2 separate regions of the Homo sapiens genome follow, and region 1 is linked to region 2. Evidence: fine-mapped expression QTL. Tissue or cell type: thyroid. Region 2 holds a variant in brackets; the other region holds the start of a gene. All regions are shown on one strand. Distances are from middle to middle.

Evidence for each region. PIP is the estimated chance that this variant, and not a neighbour inherited with it, causes the effect.
Region 1: it holds the start of PRR5-ARHGAP8, and the variant in region 2 is fine-mapped to the expression of PRR5-ARHGAP8 in thyroid (GTEx, PIP above 0.99).

Annotation. Positions count from the first base shown.
Region 1 is chr22:44,698,275-44,706,375 of GRCh38, reverse strand. It overlaps PRR5-ARHGAP8 (PRR5-ARHGAP8 readthrough), which reads right to left and starts at 4,172. Exons shown (of 15, transcript NM_181334.6): 1 at 3,768-4,172. The coding sequence starts at 3,901. It overlaps PRR5 (proline rich 5), which reads right to left and starts at 4,172. Exons shown (of 8, transcript NM_181333.4): 1 at 3,768-4,172. The coding sequence starts at 3,901. RefSeq lists a silencer at 3,889-4,298 and an enhancer at 6,547-7,087.
Region 2 is chr22:44,803,199-44,811,299 of GRCh38, reverse strand. PRR5-ARHGAP8 (PRR5-ARHGAP8 readthrough) reads right to left here. Exons shown (of 15, transcript NM_181334.6): 7 at 2,862-2,993. It overlaps ARHGAP8 (Rho GTPase activating protein 8), which reads right to left. Exons shown (of 12, transcript NM_181335.3): 4 at 2,862-2,993. Among named protein-coding and RNA genes, the nearest start is that of ARHGAP8, 55 kb to the right of the region's middle. RefSeq lists enhancers at 3,696-4,251, 4,252-4,807. The variant C/T (reference allele first, on the strand shown) is at 4,387.

The sequences.
Region 1 (8,101 bases), 100 kb after region 2:
TCCCTCTGGGAACTCTAAGCTCCAGGAGGCTGTTCTCTGCTGAATCTATGCCCTGAGCAGCCCAGTGCTGGCACAGTCAATGAATGAATGAATAAACGAATGAATGAATGAATCAATCAATCAATCAATGACTCAGTTCTCATGACAGAGCAAGCCTTACACTTGATGGAAATAGGGTCTTTGCAGCGGTATTTAATTAAGGACCTGGAGATGATCCTTAACTAAGGATGGGCCCTAAATCCAATAACTAGTGTTTTTACAAGAGAAAGGGGAGGGAGCCTGGTGTGGTGGCTCATGCCTGTAATCCCAGCACTTCCGGAGGCTGAGGCAGGCGGATCACCAGAGGTCAGGAGTTTGAGAGTAGCCTGGCCAACACGGTGAAACCCTGTCTCTACTAAAAATACAAAAATTAGCTGGGCATGGTGGCATGGTAGTGGGCGCCTACAATCCCAGCTACTTGGGAGGCTGAAGCAGGAGAATTGCTTGAACCTGTGGGGGCGGAGAATGCAATGAGCTGAGATTGCACCACTGCACTCCAGCCTGGGTGACAGAGTGAGACTCCACCTCAAAAACAAAAACAAAAATTAGCTGGGCATGGTGGTGCACGCCTGTAATCCCAGCTATTAGGGAGGCTGCGACAGGAGAATCACTTGAACCCGGGAGGTGGAGGTTGCAGTGAGCTGAGATTGCACCAGTGCACTCCAGCCTGGGTGACAGAGCAAGATTCCGTCTCAAAAGAAAACAAAAAAGAGGCTGGGCACGGTGGCTCACACCTGTAATCCCAGCACTTTGGGAGGCCGAGGTGGGCAGATCACCTGAGGTCAGGAGTTAGAGACTAGCCTGACCAACATGGCAAAACCCCGTCTCTACTAAAAGTACAAAAAATTAGCCGGGCGTGGTGGTGGGCGCCTGTAATCCCAGCTACTCCAGAGGCTGAGGAAGGAGAATTGCTTGAACCCAGGAGGCAGAAGCTGCAGTGAGCTGAGATCACACCATTGCACTCCAGCCTGGACAAGAGTGAAACTCCGTCTCAAGAAAGGAAAAAAAATAGAGAGAGAGAAAGGAGAGGGAGATTTGGACGTGGAAATGAAAGCCATGGGGAGGTACATATTGGAGTGATGCAGCCACAAGCCAAAGAGCCACCAGAAGCTTCAAGAAGCTCCTCCCCTAGAGCCTCTGGTGGGAGCGACACCTGGACTTCAAGCTTCTGGCTCCAGAACTGTGAGGGAACAAATTTCTGCTGTTTTAGGCCACCGAGTTTGTGGTCTTTGTTACAGCAGCTCTGGGAAGCTAATACAGTCACACAGATAAAAGGGGGTGTGTCTTGGACTCATAATGAGGAGTACACGGCCAGGCCCTGCAGAATGACACGCCTGTCCCCGACCCTGCACAGATCTGTTGTCCTAGGGGGCCCTGGCAGGGAGCACCGCTAGGAGCAGGAGCATGCAGACAGGGACCAGAAGGGGTGCCCTGCTCCCTGCAGTTTCCACTCAGGGACTTGGCTGGTGAAGCCAGTTTGCCTTCTCTTGGCTCCATCTCCCACATCTGCTGGGGAGGAGAGCTGGGGCGCAGGCTCTGCTGCATCCTGTGCAGGTGATGGATGAGCTGGGCATGTCTCCTGGGTGCTCTCTCTGCCCTTCTGCATCTCTCGGTGGGGGGTGCTGGTAATACCTCGCTGGGCTAGGAGAGTGGCAAAGTCAGTTAAGGGCAGTGAACGGGGCTGGCCTGGGGCCTGGCACATAAGAGGAGTGCAGGAAATGGCCGTGCCCCTGCTGCCTGGGGTGGTGGGAGCTGATGTAGGCCTAAGGGCTGGGAGACCTGGAGCCCTGCAGGTGCCGCGGGGAGGGGCTGGCATTTCTCTGCAATCTGCCAGGCTGCTGAGTGAAATCTGGTGGGGCGGGGGTTGCTCAGGCAGAGTCCCCCTGAGGCCTCCCTGAACTCTGAGAAGACACTTGAGACTCAGAGCCCACTCCAGGGTCACCCAAGGTTGGGTGAGGGCAGTGTCTAAGCCAGCAACCAGCCAGTGCCCCCACCTGTCTGGGGACCCGCAGCAGGACGCCCCACCTCGGGGGTGGGAGGGAGCTCACCAAGTGGCTGTCAGTGGGTGCTCAGGAACTGACTGATTCCTGTGGAGCCCTCCAAATGCCATCCCTACAGGGACACCCCGACACTGGTCCACTGCGTGAGTCTGGGGTTGAGCTGTGAGGTACAGAGGACTTACTATGTGCTAAGCACTGTGTTGAGGGCTTTATTTTGCATGTTCAAATTTCATCCCTACAACAGCCCCATGAGGTGGGCACTGTTATCTGCCCGTTTTATGGATAAGGAAATTGAGGACCTGACTTGCTCAAGACCACAGAGTAGGGAAGAGGCAGAGTTGGGATTTGAAATAAGTCTATTTAACTCTTTCCTCTAAATCACGGCAGAGATTCAAGGACAGAGAGATGGCTTTCATCTCAATACTGGAGGAGAACACTGCTCTTCTTTTTTTTTGAGATAGGGTCTTGCTCTGTCACCGAGGCTGGAGTGCAGTGGTGGCATCATGGCTCATGGCAGCCTCGACTTCCCTGGCTCAAGTAATCCTCCCATCTTGGCCTCCCAAAGTGCTAGGATTACAGGTGTGAGCCGCCGTGCCTGGTGGAGAACACAGCTCTTAAGACACTGTGCAGTCGTTGGGTCAGGGAGATTTCCCAACAGGAGTCCTTCCTTCACTGTTCCCACACCAGCCCTCCCCACAGGGAGGAATGCGAATACCCACTGACGGAGAGGGAAACGGAGGCAGGCATGTGACAGCCCTCTAGCAGTTTGCAACTCAGAGACAGAAGAGACCACGTTTGAAGAGGGTCTCGCTGGCAGCCCTGAGCCCACCATGACGCTCACAATGCATTCAATGAACTGAAAATAACGTGTGTCCAAGTGACAGCCGGGTTCCCGGTGGCCAAGACCACAGCCGGTGGAGCATCTGGCAAGATTTTACTGCCAGGTGTGGGCGCGAGAGGGGCAACGTCCACAGCCTCCCCCGAACAGTGTCCACAGCCTCCCCCGAACAGTGTCCACTGCCTCCCGCGAACAGCCTGCCTCACTTTCTCCTGCCTCTCATTTTCCTAGGGAGCAGAGACGCTGGGGAGTTCCACTAAATAAACCGTCTCTTTTCCAGATCCCGGACTTGCTCCTCAAACAAAGCTGGGAGAAGGGGCTTCCCAGGCCCCTGCTTGTCTGGGAATGACCCCTGGAGGAGAGTCCTCTAAAGAATGCCTCGCAGCTGCCGCACCCCCTGCTGACAGCTGGAGGACAGGGGGCCTCTCAAGGGAAAGCCGAAGGGAGCTTAAAGAGACACAGGAAGCCTGCGCGACCCACCCACTGAGCCCCGAGGCTCCCGTGCTCAGCCGCAAAATGGGAAAAATACTTCCTGCTCCGTTAGCCTCCCAGGTTGTCACGAGCACCGCAGTGGAGACGTGGAAAGACCCCGGGTAGGAGGCGGGCACGCGGCTTCCCGGCCCACCCCGCCGCCCACCCGCCGGGCGCTTCTGGGCCAGCCCCGGGCGCTGGCGGGCCTCGCTCCCTTCCCTGGGTTCTGGAACCACGCTGCACTGAACTTTCCTCCAGGCCCGCACCACTCCGGCGGGGCAAGTTCTTTGCAAACTGTGAAGCGCCGCGCCGCCTTCGGCAGCGTTCCTGGCTCGGGGCGGCCCCTAGCCCGCGGACGGCTCAGGGGTCCCCTCCCCCGGCTCCAGGGCCTCCGGGTGGCCGGGAGGGCGCGGCCTTACCTGTTCCAGGTGGCGTTGGCGCAGGCCCGGCGCTGCTGCGTGCCCCGCTCGTCCGCGGCGGCGGCCGGCTCTCTCTTGCCCAGGTCACTGAGGCTGGGCGAACTCATGAACTTCAACCTGCGGAGAGTCCTCATGGTGACCCGGGCCGCCTGCGCCGCGCCCACGCGCGCCCCACGCCGCGCCCTGCGCCACGCCGCACCAAGGGCCCCGGGCCGGCGATGCGCCCTCTACGCGGAAACTCCGGCGAGAGCAGGAAGCCGAGCGGTCCTGCGGGGTCCCGCCCCGGCCCCGCGCCTCCGTCTCGGGTCCCGCGCCGGCCGCCCCGCCGGGTTAATCATTGCACGGAGAGGCTCAGCGTGGAGCGCCAGGCGCGCGGCCAGCACAGACCCGGCGCAAACGGAGGCCGGGGGCGGACCCGGGGGCGGGCCCAGGGGCGGGTCTCGGCGCCCCGGGGGGCGGGGCGGGGAAGGGGGCGGGGGCATCGCGGGCGGGGCGGGGCCTCAGGCGAGGGGGCGTGTGCAAGAGGCGGAGCCGGCGTCTCCGCGGCCGCAGCTGCCACGACGCCTCGCTGGGTCTGCCCTCTGAGGACGTGCTCACCCTCCTCCCCTCTTCCGAGGGCCCCACGTGCCCACAGGAAACCAACACGCACAGGACGCAGGGCCCAAGCCCAAGCGCCCGCCCCCCGCCCAGCACTGCGGTCGCGCCCACACGATGTCCTTCGACCCCGGCCCCGGAGGTCTCCCTCCACAGCCCTCCTCGCAAAGGCTGTGCCACAGAGGTGCCTCCGTACCCCTCACCTGAACACAGGCTCCCCCACCCAGTTCTCATGAGGACTTTGGGTAGAGGCCTTCAGTCCCCTCCAGGCACCTTGGCCCAAGAACCCACTCCACCCGGGCTCAGCCTAGACCCCCTTGGACAGGGACTTCAGCATTGCCTGGCTGCCTGGAGGATTTGCTGGAGTGAGGGCTTGAAGAAGTAGAGGGTTTGCTCCTTATCTCCCACCCCCAGGTCTCTTGGATGGTAAAACCAAGCAGTTTCCCAAGTCCCTGTGGTGGGGGCAGAGTGATCCCAGTGAAGGCAGGGCACAGCCGGTGCTTCCTGCCTGCTTCGCAGAGCACTTTTAGATGTCTGATTTCACATGAACTAACATGAACTACTTCCGTGAGGTAGAGATTATTCTTCTCCCCATTTTCCAGTTGAGGACATTGAGGCTCACAGAGTGAAATAACTTGCCCAACATTGTGCCAACATTGTGCAATCAACAAATGGTAGAGTTGGGCTTCACCACAGGGAGCGTCCAGCCCCTTGAACAGGGCCCTTCCCAGTCCCCAGCTTCTGGGATTCCCACAAGGCTCACCTGACCCCTCCATCAGATGGGGGGTGACAGCCACAGCTCCAGGAGCTGGGAGGGCCCCATATAAAATGTAAGAGAGAGGTGATGGCTCATGCCTGTAATCCCAGCACTTTGGGAGGCCGAGGTGGGAGGATCACCTGAGGTCAGGAGTTCAAGACCAGCCCGGCCAACATGGAGAAACCCCATCTCTATTAAAAATACAAAATTAGCTGGGCGTGGTGGTGCATGCCCGTAATCCCAGCTACTCAGGAGGCTGAGACAGGAGAATCGCTTGAACCTGGGAGGCAGAGGTTGCAGAGAGCTGAGATCTCGCCACTGCACTCCAGCCTGGGCAACAACAGCAAAACTCCGTCTCAAAAATCATCATCATCATAATAAAATAAAATAAAAAGTAAGAGAGCCTCATGAAGAGTCTTTGTTTAGTGCAAATCAACCAGTGTCTCCTGAGTACCTCCTGTGTTCCAGACATAAATACCATCGTCTTTGGGAGACAGAGACATAAACAGACAAACTTGCTCATCAGTAAAGCGGGATGGAACGGTTCATCTCACAGGCAGCTTGGGGCCCACAGGCAGCAACAGGTGCTTTATAAACTAACTGTCAAGTGCTGTACACGTTTTCTTTTCTTTTTGAGACAGAGTCTCACTTTTTGGCCCAGGTTGAATGCAGTGGCACCACTGTGGTCACTGCAGCCTCTACCTCCTGGGTTCAAGCAACCCTCCCACGTTAGCCTCCTGAATAGCTGGGACTACAAGGCATGTGCCACCATGCCTGGCTGATTTTTTGCGTGTGTGATGGCGTTTCGCTCTTGTCGCCTGTGGAGTGCAATGGCGCAATCATGGCTCACTGCTAACCTCTGCCTCCCAGGTTCAAGTGATTCTCCTGCCTCAATCTAGTGAGTAGCTGAGATTATAGGCACCTACCACCACGCCTGGCTGATTTTTTTATTTATTAGTAGAGATGGGGTTTCACCATGTTGGCCAGGCTGGTCTTAAACTCCTGACCTCAGGTGATCCTCCCACCTCGGCCTCCTAAAGTGCTGGGATTACAAGAATGAACCACTGTGCCCGGCTCCCTGGCTAATTTTTAAAAAATTTTGTAATAGAGACAAGGTCTTGCTATGTTGCCCAGGCTGGTCTCAAACTTCTGGACTCAAGGAGTCCTCCCACTTTTGGCCACCCATAGTGTTAGGATTACAGGCATGAACTACTGTGCCTAGCCCACGCTCTCAAACTTACGGGAACACTGTATCTTTTAGATCCCAAACCAAATTTCATGGCCAGACAAGGATTTCCTACCTTACTGCTGTAAAAAAAAAAACAAAAACAACAACAAAAAACATATAAAAATACTAAAGCATGTACTGAATTGTCTCTGAAAAGAATGAAAACAGAGGATAAAGCCCAGATCCTTGACTCCTCGGAGGGGCCTTTGAGACCTGCTTGCCCTCCAGCTGCGGGTCCCTCCCCTGCCCTAGAACGTCTTTCAGAGAAGTTAGTTGCCCCTGTCTCTGACCGCCTTCACTCTCAATTAGGCTCAGGGGGCGTCCTGTTGTCACCCGATGACTTTTTTTCCATCCTATGCCATAAGCCAGGAGGGCAAGAACCGTAACAACTTGTTCACTGCTACAGTCCCCGTGCCTAGCACAGACTGGGTGCTTCATAGATATTTGGTTTAACGGATGGATGAACATTTATCTCATAAGAATAAAGGGATTACATTGGACCCCACTGGTGAAAATGCCTCATAAAAGTGCCCAGGCTGGACAGATGTGAGCGAGAATCTCCGTCATGGCCACTGGTGTAAACGCAGCAAAGCAGAACCGCCAGGGATCCGGATGGGATGAAATGGTTTCCCACGCCGGAGGCTGGCTCTCAGGAGAGGACTGGCTTTGTGGGCTCAGCACAGCCTGGTCCCAAGCTTGCTGACCACAGGCAGGGCCTGGCTGGCAGGAGGGGCCAGCTCCAGAGAGGGAGGGAGGCCTGACTGCTTGGGATAAGAAATCAGAGAGAAATGGGCAGCCCGAGGTGGGAGGCAGGAGGAGGGAAACAGGGGGCTGGGAATGCTGTAGGCATCTGGGAGAAGCGGCCAGCCAGAAATTCCGGAGGTGGGGATGGCTGAGGAATTTTAAAGAGATCTTTAAAAAAGGCATCTCTAGTCAGCGTTAAGGAATTAGCTATAACCTCTCCCTGGCCCCAGCCACAGATGTGTAAAATCTGTCTACACCCAACAGCCCAGCGCCAGGAGGGCAGTGGAGGCTCAAGCAAAGGTGCTAGTGCTCTGGGTTTGGGCCGTGACAGGCAGAGAGGGCACAGCTGCGGGGCTGCCCCGGGGCCAGAAACCCCAGGCAGAGGCCACAAGGGGACAGAGCTGTCACAAACCCTCAGAGCAGGGGGCAACTGGGGGACAAAGGGCGGAGTCTAGCCCCTAAGTGTGCTCTGTGTGGCCTGCAGCGTCGGAGGAAAATAAACCAAACTGCGTGCGGCCAACATCTTACAACATTTTACAACGGAGAGATTGACACAGAAACCCGGATTCTGGCCGCCCTGAAGCATCAGGTGACAGTCTTGCTGGGCCTGAGCCCCACGTGACAGCTCCCACCCGGCTACTGCCCCTGCCAGCAGGCACAAGGCCTCCAGGTGCCCACCGGGCCCTCCTCTCACTTATGGGGCTTTCTGGGTCTGAGGAGGGGGCTGGGGGACCCAGCAATTGTATTGTGGCGGGGTACCCTGGGCAGGGCTCATTTGTGTCTGAGACCAGGGAAGGGAAATGTCCCTCTGTTAAGGAAATGAGAGACAAAGGGACTCAGTCACACATCCCCAAAGCCACCAGAGTGGCCCCCACTCCAGACTCATTCACACATCCCCAAAGCCACCAGAGCCACCTCTGCTCCAGACTCATTCACACAACCCCAAAGCCACCAGAGCCACCCCTGCTCCAGACTCATTCACACATCCCCAAAGCCACCAGAGTGGCCCCT
Region 2 (8,101 bases):
GCTTTGTCACTGCTCACAGGTCACTGCTGGCAACACAGATTCCAACTCCCCGGCTAGATTTCATCCATCGACCACTGGCACATCTTACCTGGCTGTGAAGGAATTCTGCTGCTTTCTCCCAAGCGGGAGTGACCCACTCCTTATGTGCGAACCAGCAGCCCCCTCGAGAAAGGGAAGGGAAAGCACCCTGGGCTGATTACGGGTTTGTTTCTCTGGGCTGATTTCTGGCAACTGAGAAGTGGGGGAGCTGCCTCAAGGAATCTGCGGGTGCATCTTCGTTTCTCACGTGGGGAAGTGCAGAGGGCAAAACCTTCATCTGCTTTAGCTCAAGACAGGGCTACTGTGCACATCCTGCTGTGAGCCTGAGCCTCCTGAAAGGGCTGCTTTAAACACATCACTCGCTTCTCCTCAAGCACCTGCCATGGCTCCCTGCTGCCTCTTAAACACAGTCCAGCATCCTCTGTGCCCCTCCCTCCTTTGCTGCCTCCCTCCACGGCTCCCCACGGGAACCCTACAGACCAGACCCCCACCAATTGCACCAAAGTCCACCCTGCTCTTTCTTGCATCTGGCCACACCTCGTACCAGAAGCAAAATCCAGTGATTGCCACTTCACAACACCCTGCCCACCACTCCACAGGCAGCTCAAAGGCTGCTTCCTCCATGCAGCCTTCCTGATTACGCCAGCTGGAACCTTGGTACTTCCTGCCAGTACCACTTCACTCCTCTATCCTCCCATCTAACGCTTAATAAAAGCCTGCCGGCTGGGCACAGTGGCTCACGCCTGTAATCCCGGCACTTTGGGAGGCCAAGGCAGGCGGATCACGAGGTCAGGAGTTCAAGACCAGCCTGGCCAACATAGTGAAACCCCGTCTCTACTAAAAATACAAAAATTAGCCGGGCATGGTGGCTCACGCCTGTAGTCCCAGGTACTCAGGAGGCTGAGGCAGGAGAATCACTTGAACCTGGGAGGTGGAGGTTGTGGTGAGCCGAGATCTCGCCACTGTGCTCCAGCCCAGGCAATAGAATGAGACTCTGTCTCAAAAAAAAAAAAAAAAAAAAAAAGGCTGCCATATGCAGATCCTTTCCCACCTGCAAGGGATGCAGAGACAGGTCCGGGATCACAGCCTAGTGCAGGAGGCAGACCTGTTCACAAACCCCTAAGTGCTAGCTAGGATTGGTGTCTGCTTAGGCACAGTGAGGCTGCAGGGAAGGGGCTATTGATTCTCCCAGGACAACCCAGGAAGCCTTCCTGGAGGAGGACATGCGCTGGGGCTAGGCCATCTCCAGCTTATACAGGTGCCCAGTAAATGACTGCAAAATACAGCAACAATTCTTTCCCTAAGACATAGGATGGGGAACCAAGAAGTCCCTCCGAAGGTCCTATTGATAATGACAGCAGGACCCAAAAGGCAACTGGAGGGAGGACTTCTGGGACATTCAGGCACTGCCTTCCACTGTCCCACTGACTCAGATATCTGTGAAGCAGATTTCTGTTACAGGTTTGAAAGGACTTTGAAGAAGGAAAACCCAGAGGAATCTAGGATATCCACATCAACGCCCATCGCCGCAGTCTACGAGCCAGATATATTGCCAAGTTGATTATTAGGCCGGACGTCCCTCAGGAAAAGTCTGCCGGCTCCAGGCCATGGCCAAGCGGTGAGTAGCGTTGGGTGGGAGAGGGAGGCGGGGGCCTGGGGTGGGATCCTGCCCTACCACACACAAGCTGAGTGACCACGGGTAAGTCACTTGCTCCCTGGGGCCTATGTCCTCATCTGTAAAATGAGGCTGCCATCTCACCAACAAGAGGCATCAGAATGCCCCTTGCAGACTGTAAAGGGCTGTGAAAGCAAGAAGAGGCTTTAGTGAAGAAACGGTCATGCAGTTGTTTCTTTGCCAGTAATTCACTGGACCAGGGGTGGGAGAATGGGCAGGCAGGATGAACCTAGCCTGCTTCCTGCTTTGGTACAGGCTGCAAGCTAAAAATGGCTTTTTATGTTTTTAAGTGGTTGAAAAAAAAAAACAGAAGAATATTTCATGACACGTGAAAATGACATGAAATTCACATTTCAGCGTCCATAATGTTTTACTGGAACACAGTCCAGCAGAGTTGTTGCAATAGAGCAACAGGCCTGCAAAGCTAAAATGCTGACTGTCTGGCCCTTTAAGAACAAGAGTGTTGGCTTGGCATGGTGGCTCCTGCCTGTAATCCCAGTACTTTGGGAGGCTGAGGTGGGAGGATCGCTTGAGCTTGGAGTTCGAGACCAGCCTGGGCCACATAGTGAGATCCCCGTCTCTACAAAAAAAAATACAAAAATTAGCTAGGCATGGTGGTGAACGCCTGTAGTCCCAGCTACTCAGGAGGCTGAGGCAAGAGGACTGCTTGAGCCCAGGAGGCCGAGGCTGCAGTGAACCATGATTGCACCACTGCACTCCAGCCTGGGCAACAGGGCGAGACTGTCTCTGTTTTTGTTTTTGGTTTTTTTTTTTTTGTATTTTTACTAGAGACAGGGTTTCGCCATGTTGGCCAGCCTGGTCTCGAACTCCTGACCTCAGGTGATCCACCCACCTTGGCCTCCCAAAGTACTGGGATTACAGGTGTGAGCCATGGTGGCTGGGTGAGACCGTCTCTTAAAAAAAAGAAAGAAAGAAAAAAAAAAATGAGTGCCAACCCCTGCCCGGGATTCCAGAGCTTGGCCCAGAGGGGAGGTGAACCTCCACTGCCCCACATTTGCTCACCCTCCACCCTCCGCCCTACCAGACCCCTCCCCCACTGCACACTCTGCGACCCCTTGTGGCCACAATGCCTCCTCCTGCCACAAGCAGCCCACACCCACGTCCCTGAAGGCTTGCGGGCACGTACTTCCTATCGAACTCCTTGTATGCGCTCTGGAGCCAGCCCAGGGAAGGCTTGTTCCGGCTGTTCAGCCCGTAGTGGAAATAGACGATGGTATAATCGTTCTCAACGTATTGGTCCAGTGTGTACTTCAAATACCTGGGCACAACACAGAAGATTCAGTTATGAAAATCACCTACTCATTATTGAAACCAAACGTGCTTTCCCTATAATGGAAGCTATGGTCACCCAGTAGGTGCCAGCACCGGGCCACATGGAGACTCCATGCACCGTGGGCCCCGGTCCTCATTTCCCAGATGACATCTGAGGCTCAGAGACGTTAAGTGACTTATCTAAAGTCACACAGCTAGTAAGTGGATGTGGTAGGCCAGATTGTTGCCCGTGGAAAGACATCCATATCAAATCCGTGGAGCCTGAGAATGTGACCTTATCTGGGAAAAAGGTCTTTGTAGGTGCAATTAAATTTAGGACCTTGAGAGGAGGGGCTCATCCTGGACTACCCAGGTGGACCTTCAGTGCAATCACATGCATCCTTCTAAGGCAGACACGAAGATGAGAAGTCAGAGGGCGGAAGGTCACGTAAAGACGGAGGCAAAGCAGAGTGTCGACGACAGCATGATGTGGCCACCAGCCCTGGAAGGCCCAGGACTGCTGACAGCCTTTATGGGCTGGACAGGCAAGGAAGGGCTTCTCCCTTCCCAGGGAGCACGGCCCTGGCCACACCTCAATTTTGAACTTCTGGCATCCAGAACTGTGAGAGAATACATTTCTGGTTTTACGCCACCACATTTGCGATCATGGTTACGGCAGCCCCGGGAAACTCACAAGGAGGATGAGCTGGGATTTGAACCCAGGAATGCTTGACTGCTCAGCCCTTGCCGTTGACCCCCAACACCACAGGCCCTTCTACCTCAGACACCCGGCTGCCTGCTGCATTTCTAAGGCAAGCAATTCCTTCCCTCCAGGTGAGCTCCTAACATTTTGCTTTTCATTACAAAGCCAGAGTCCTGACACTGTGCTCTGCGTCTGTCGCCCGCCACCCCCTATGGTGTAGGCTCTACCCATTTCCCATGGACCACGTTCCATCCTGCCCTGCTGCACCTAGCAAGCACTGTCTTCATGTCACCTGTGGGAAAGGGCTTGCCCTGCCATCTGCAGAAGGAAGGGCTCCAGAAGGACCCCCTAACCCTCCACCAGCACTCTGCAGGGCCTGACACTGAGCCGGTCAGGCCATGATCCCTCAGCTCAGGTTGTCCAGGTTCTCACCTGGAGCACATCTTGTAATTAACCCACCCACGTGGCCCCACTCTCTGAGGCTGTGGGTGGGGTGCTCTGCAGACAGAAGCTCCCAGAACTGCCTCGGGAGAAAGCCGCAGCAGCCTGTGCCCACCTGCAGAGGCTCGGCTGGTCCCGCACTGCCCGGAAGCCTGGAGACCAAGGATGCCAGCTTCTCCTGTGTGCGTTTGATTTCTTTTTTTTTTTTTTTTGAGACAGAGTCTGTCACCCAGGCTGGAGTGCAGTGGTGTGATCT[C/T]GGCTCACTGCAAGCTCCGCCTCCTGGATTCACGCCGTTCTCGTGCCTCAGCCTCCTGAGTAGCTGGGACTACAGGCGCCTGCCACCACGCCCGGCTAATTTTTTTTAATTACTATTATTTTTAGTAGAGGCGGGGTTTCACTGAGTTAGCCAGGATGGTCTTGATCTTCTGACCTCGTGATCCACCCGCCTCGGCCTCCCAAAGTGCTGGGATTACAGGCATGAGCCACCGTGCCCGGCCTGTGCGTTTGATTTCTAAGTGATGTCAGAGTGCCCTCTGACAAAAGCCCATACCACCTGAACTGCAGGCCTTCTACACGTTTAATTCTCCCAATGACCCTAGGAGCCAGGTACTATTATCTCCATTTTATAGACAAGTCAACTGAGACTCACAGAGGTGAATCAGTAAGGGGCAGAGCTGGGCTTTGAACCAAGTGGCCTGGCTCCAGCTTCCACACACTCAGCGTCTCTGAGAACTGTGGGCTGCCATCCACGCCTGCTCCCATCCCGTTGTCTGCTTTGATGTAGAGAAATCACGCACATCTGACCTCACACCATGCATGATTTCAGCTCACCCGTTGTGGAAGTAACTTCAAAACTCATTTTCCAGAGTGCTGTCTCGAACACCATGTGGGCTAAGCCACCGGGGCATACTTCACCAAGGTCATCCTTTATTGAGTCACTTTCTCAGAAAAACCCAGGTCGAGACTTCCACCTGAACACAGAGGGGTGGAAGAGTCCACGAACCACTGAGAACTCTTCACTCCTCCTCACTTCTCAGGATAGCCACTTTTGTATTTCGCAAATGACTTTTTCAAGAGAGGGAAACTGAGGCCAATGTCTTTGCACAGCTCCTCTTCCCACTCTGGGCGCCTCCTTGTAAAAGCAGGCACCCTTCCTTTGGCCCCAGCGCTGGGCTCTCCCCAGTGCCTTCTGTTCAGCACACTGAAATCCTCTGAGTGTCAATGCATCTGCCCGCGTGCTCAGCACAGGAAGTCATTAACTAAATTACTAGTTGGGTTTCAAAGACATAGACTTGTTTCTTCACCCGCTTCAAAAATAGGAGCATGCATCTGGCCACAAGAAAGCCATCCGGTTGGAATGGATAGGGAGGATAATGTACGGGGTGTTAATTTTTTTCATAAAGGCTGCGGAGAAGTAAGCCTGATGGCTCTTCTTATCAAGGCCGAGAAGCCCACAGAGCACCTTTGCATGAGTTAGAAAAAGATGCCTTTTCCTCTGGGCAGATGCTTGTCCCACGCTGAGTGAAAAAAGCACCAGGTGATGGTAGCTTCTCATCTGGTTAGCCTTGTGCTGTGAACAACCTATACAACTGTTCATGGAAGCCATGCTTACTACTTCCACCTAATAGTAAAGGAATCTTGGATAAGCACATAAAAGAGCACAAGGTACCAATTTGTTGTCAGGGGTGCTTTTTGTCCAATTTAGTTGAAATTCACATAACATAAATTAACCACTTTCAAGTGAACAATTCAGGCATCTAGTACATTCACAAAGCTGTGCAATTACCCCCTCTCTACAGCTCTGAAACACTGTTATCACCCCAAAAGAAAACTGAGACCTGTTCAACAGTCATTCTCCCCATCACACTCCCGGTACCCGGCAACCACCAATTCGCTTTCTGTCTTTGCAGGCACTTTTGTCTTTATAAGAACAGCAAATCGTGAGCTCATTCCTGGCCCAGCAGCAGCCTCCTCGGGGAGAGCTGACCCACAGGTCACAGGTCTTTCCGTGCCTAAATGACCTGACAAGGGAATGCGTCCTCTCAAGAGGACCCCAGGAGACGAGCTCTTCCTGGATCTAGCATCCATCTCTCCCTGTGTGCCTGGTAAACACCAAGAGTGGGCTGCAGGCTGGCATCGGCTCCTCACTGGGGTGAGCACCTCCTGGGGAAAGCCAGCCTCACTGTCTGGGGTAATCAGCACCAGGATCCAAGCTCGCCCCATGAATCCTGCAGGTCTCGCCGTGCAGCAGCAGCACTGGTGCACTGGTGGAAGTCGCTCCCGGCACCTGCTCCCCGCCAGGTCTCTGCCTTTGCCACTGCAGTTTCAGCTGTGGTCAGAAGATTCTTTAACAGACCAGATAGAATGCATATATTGGGGGGACTCTCATGAAGCAACCAGCCCAAAGTCTTCTGGGTGCTTCTATGTCCGATCATGCCTTTGTTCATCTTGAGTTGGGGGTTCCAGGTCGAGCCCACTCCCTGAGTCCCTTGGCTTTAGCAGTTAGATGCTGGCATCTGGAAGTGGTGGCAGGCACAGCCTCCCCGCCAGGGTCACGTCCTGAGCTGTCCCCAGCAGTGAGGGAGTCTGCAGCAGGCCAGGTGCCGTGCTCCCTGTCCTCACAAGGGCACATAAATGTTTCCAGGGACACCCAGAGATCGGCCAGGGCTTGGCCTCAGAAATGAAGCTCAATCAGTTCATTGTCGGGGAGCAAATTCCAAGGCCCTCAGAACCTAACTTCCCTTCACTAAGACTGAGCTTCTCCCCTGGGCCTGGGGGCCTCTCACTCACACAGACAGGGATTCCAGCAGAGGTGCTGCTCTCGCTATTTTGCCAACTCTCCCCCAGCAGCAGCTCTCCTGGGCCGGGGAGTTTCACCAGGAAGGAGGCTCGGTGGCCGCCTTATGAAAGCAGTGTGGCCAGCACAGCAGACACCAGCAGCAAGGGACAGATGAAAGAGGATGACAGGGCGCCCAAGGCCATACACAGGTGAGGAACAGGTGGTTCCTTCTGAGCAATGGGAAACGGCCAATGCAGAGGGTGCAGGGTGCGAGGCCCATGTGGCTTTGAGGAGGGTGATGGAGGGAGGGAAGGAAGCAGGCAGACCTAAGAGGGCGTGAGGCCCGGGCCCACGCTCAAGACTGTGGACCCAAAGCTGCTTTGGGCTGGAGAAGGCTCAGTCCTGCAGGTGGGTCTGGTGGCCTGGGGGTCATGTGACAGCCATCTAAGGACCCATGAGTCAATCTACTTTAGGTTAGTCTTTCACTCTGAACACCCAGTCTGTGCTGAGCATGTGACTTAGTCAACTTAGTGATGGAGAAGCGTGTGCACAAGAGGTGTGTGTGTATGAGAGCAGGTATGTGTGCACAGGAGGGGGTGTGTTCCTGGGAGGGGGTGTGTGCATGGGAGGGGGTGTGTGCATGGGAGAGGGTGGGTGCATGAGAGGAGGTGCATGCATGGGGGGGTGTGTTCCTGGGAGGGGGTGTGTGCACGGGAGGGGGTGTGTGCATGGGAGGGGGTGTGTGCATGGGAGGTGGTGTCTGCATAGTGGTGGGGGGTGGAGAGAGGACAGCCACAGTAGGGGACTGGCACAGAACGCAGGTAAGCACACAAGGGGACATATGCAAGGGACGATGTGTTTGGGGGTGCTGCATGCAAAGGCTGGGGGAACAGAAGGTGTAGACCCAGGAGGGGTAATGTACAGGGAGAGGCCACACACAGCTTTGGTGGCTATGAGGGCCCCTGGGCCCGTCCCTTCAAAGGGTTCTGTTCAATGCAGTAAAAGGTTCCTTGCCCAAGTTAGTTTGGGAAACTGCCTGAGACCTCCCCTTCTGAATGCTCCTGATGCTTGTTGGTATGGCAAACTAACAACAACCTTGATTTTCTACGGCCCCCCACCCTGTACCAGCTGTGGAGCCCATGCGCACCTGGGTGGCACTGGGAGTGTACAAGGGACATGGGGCCCAGGCACC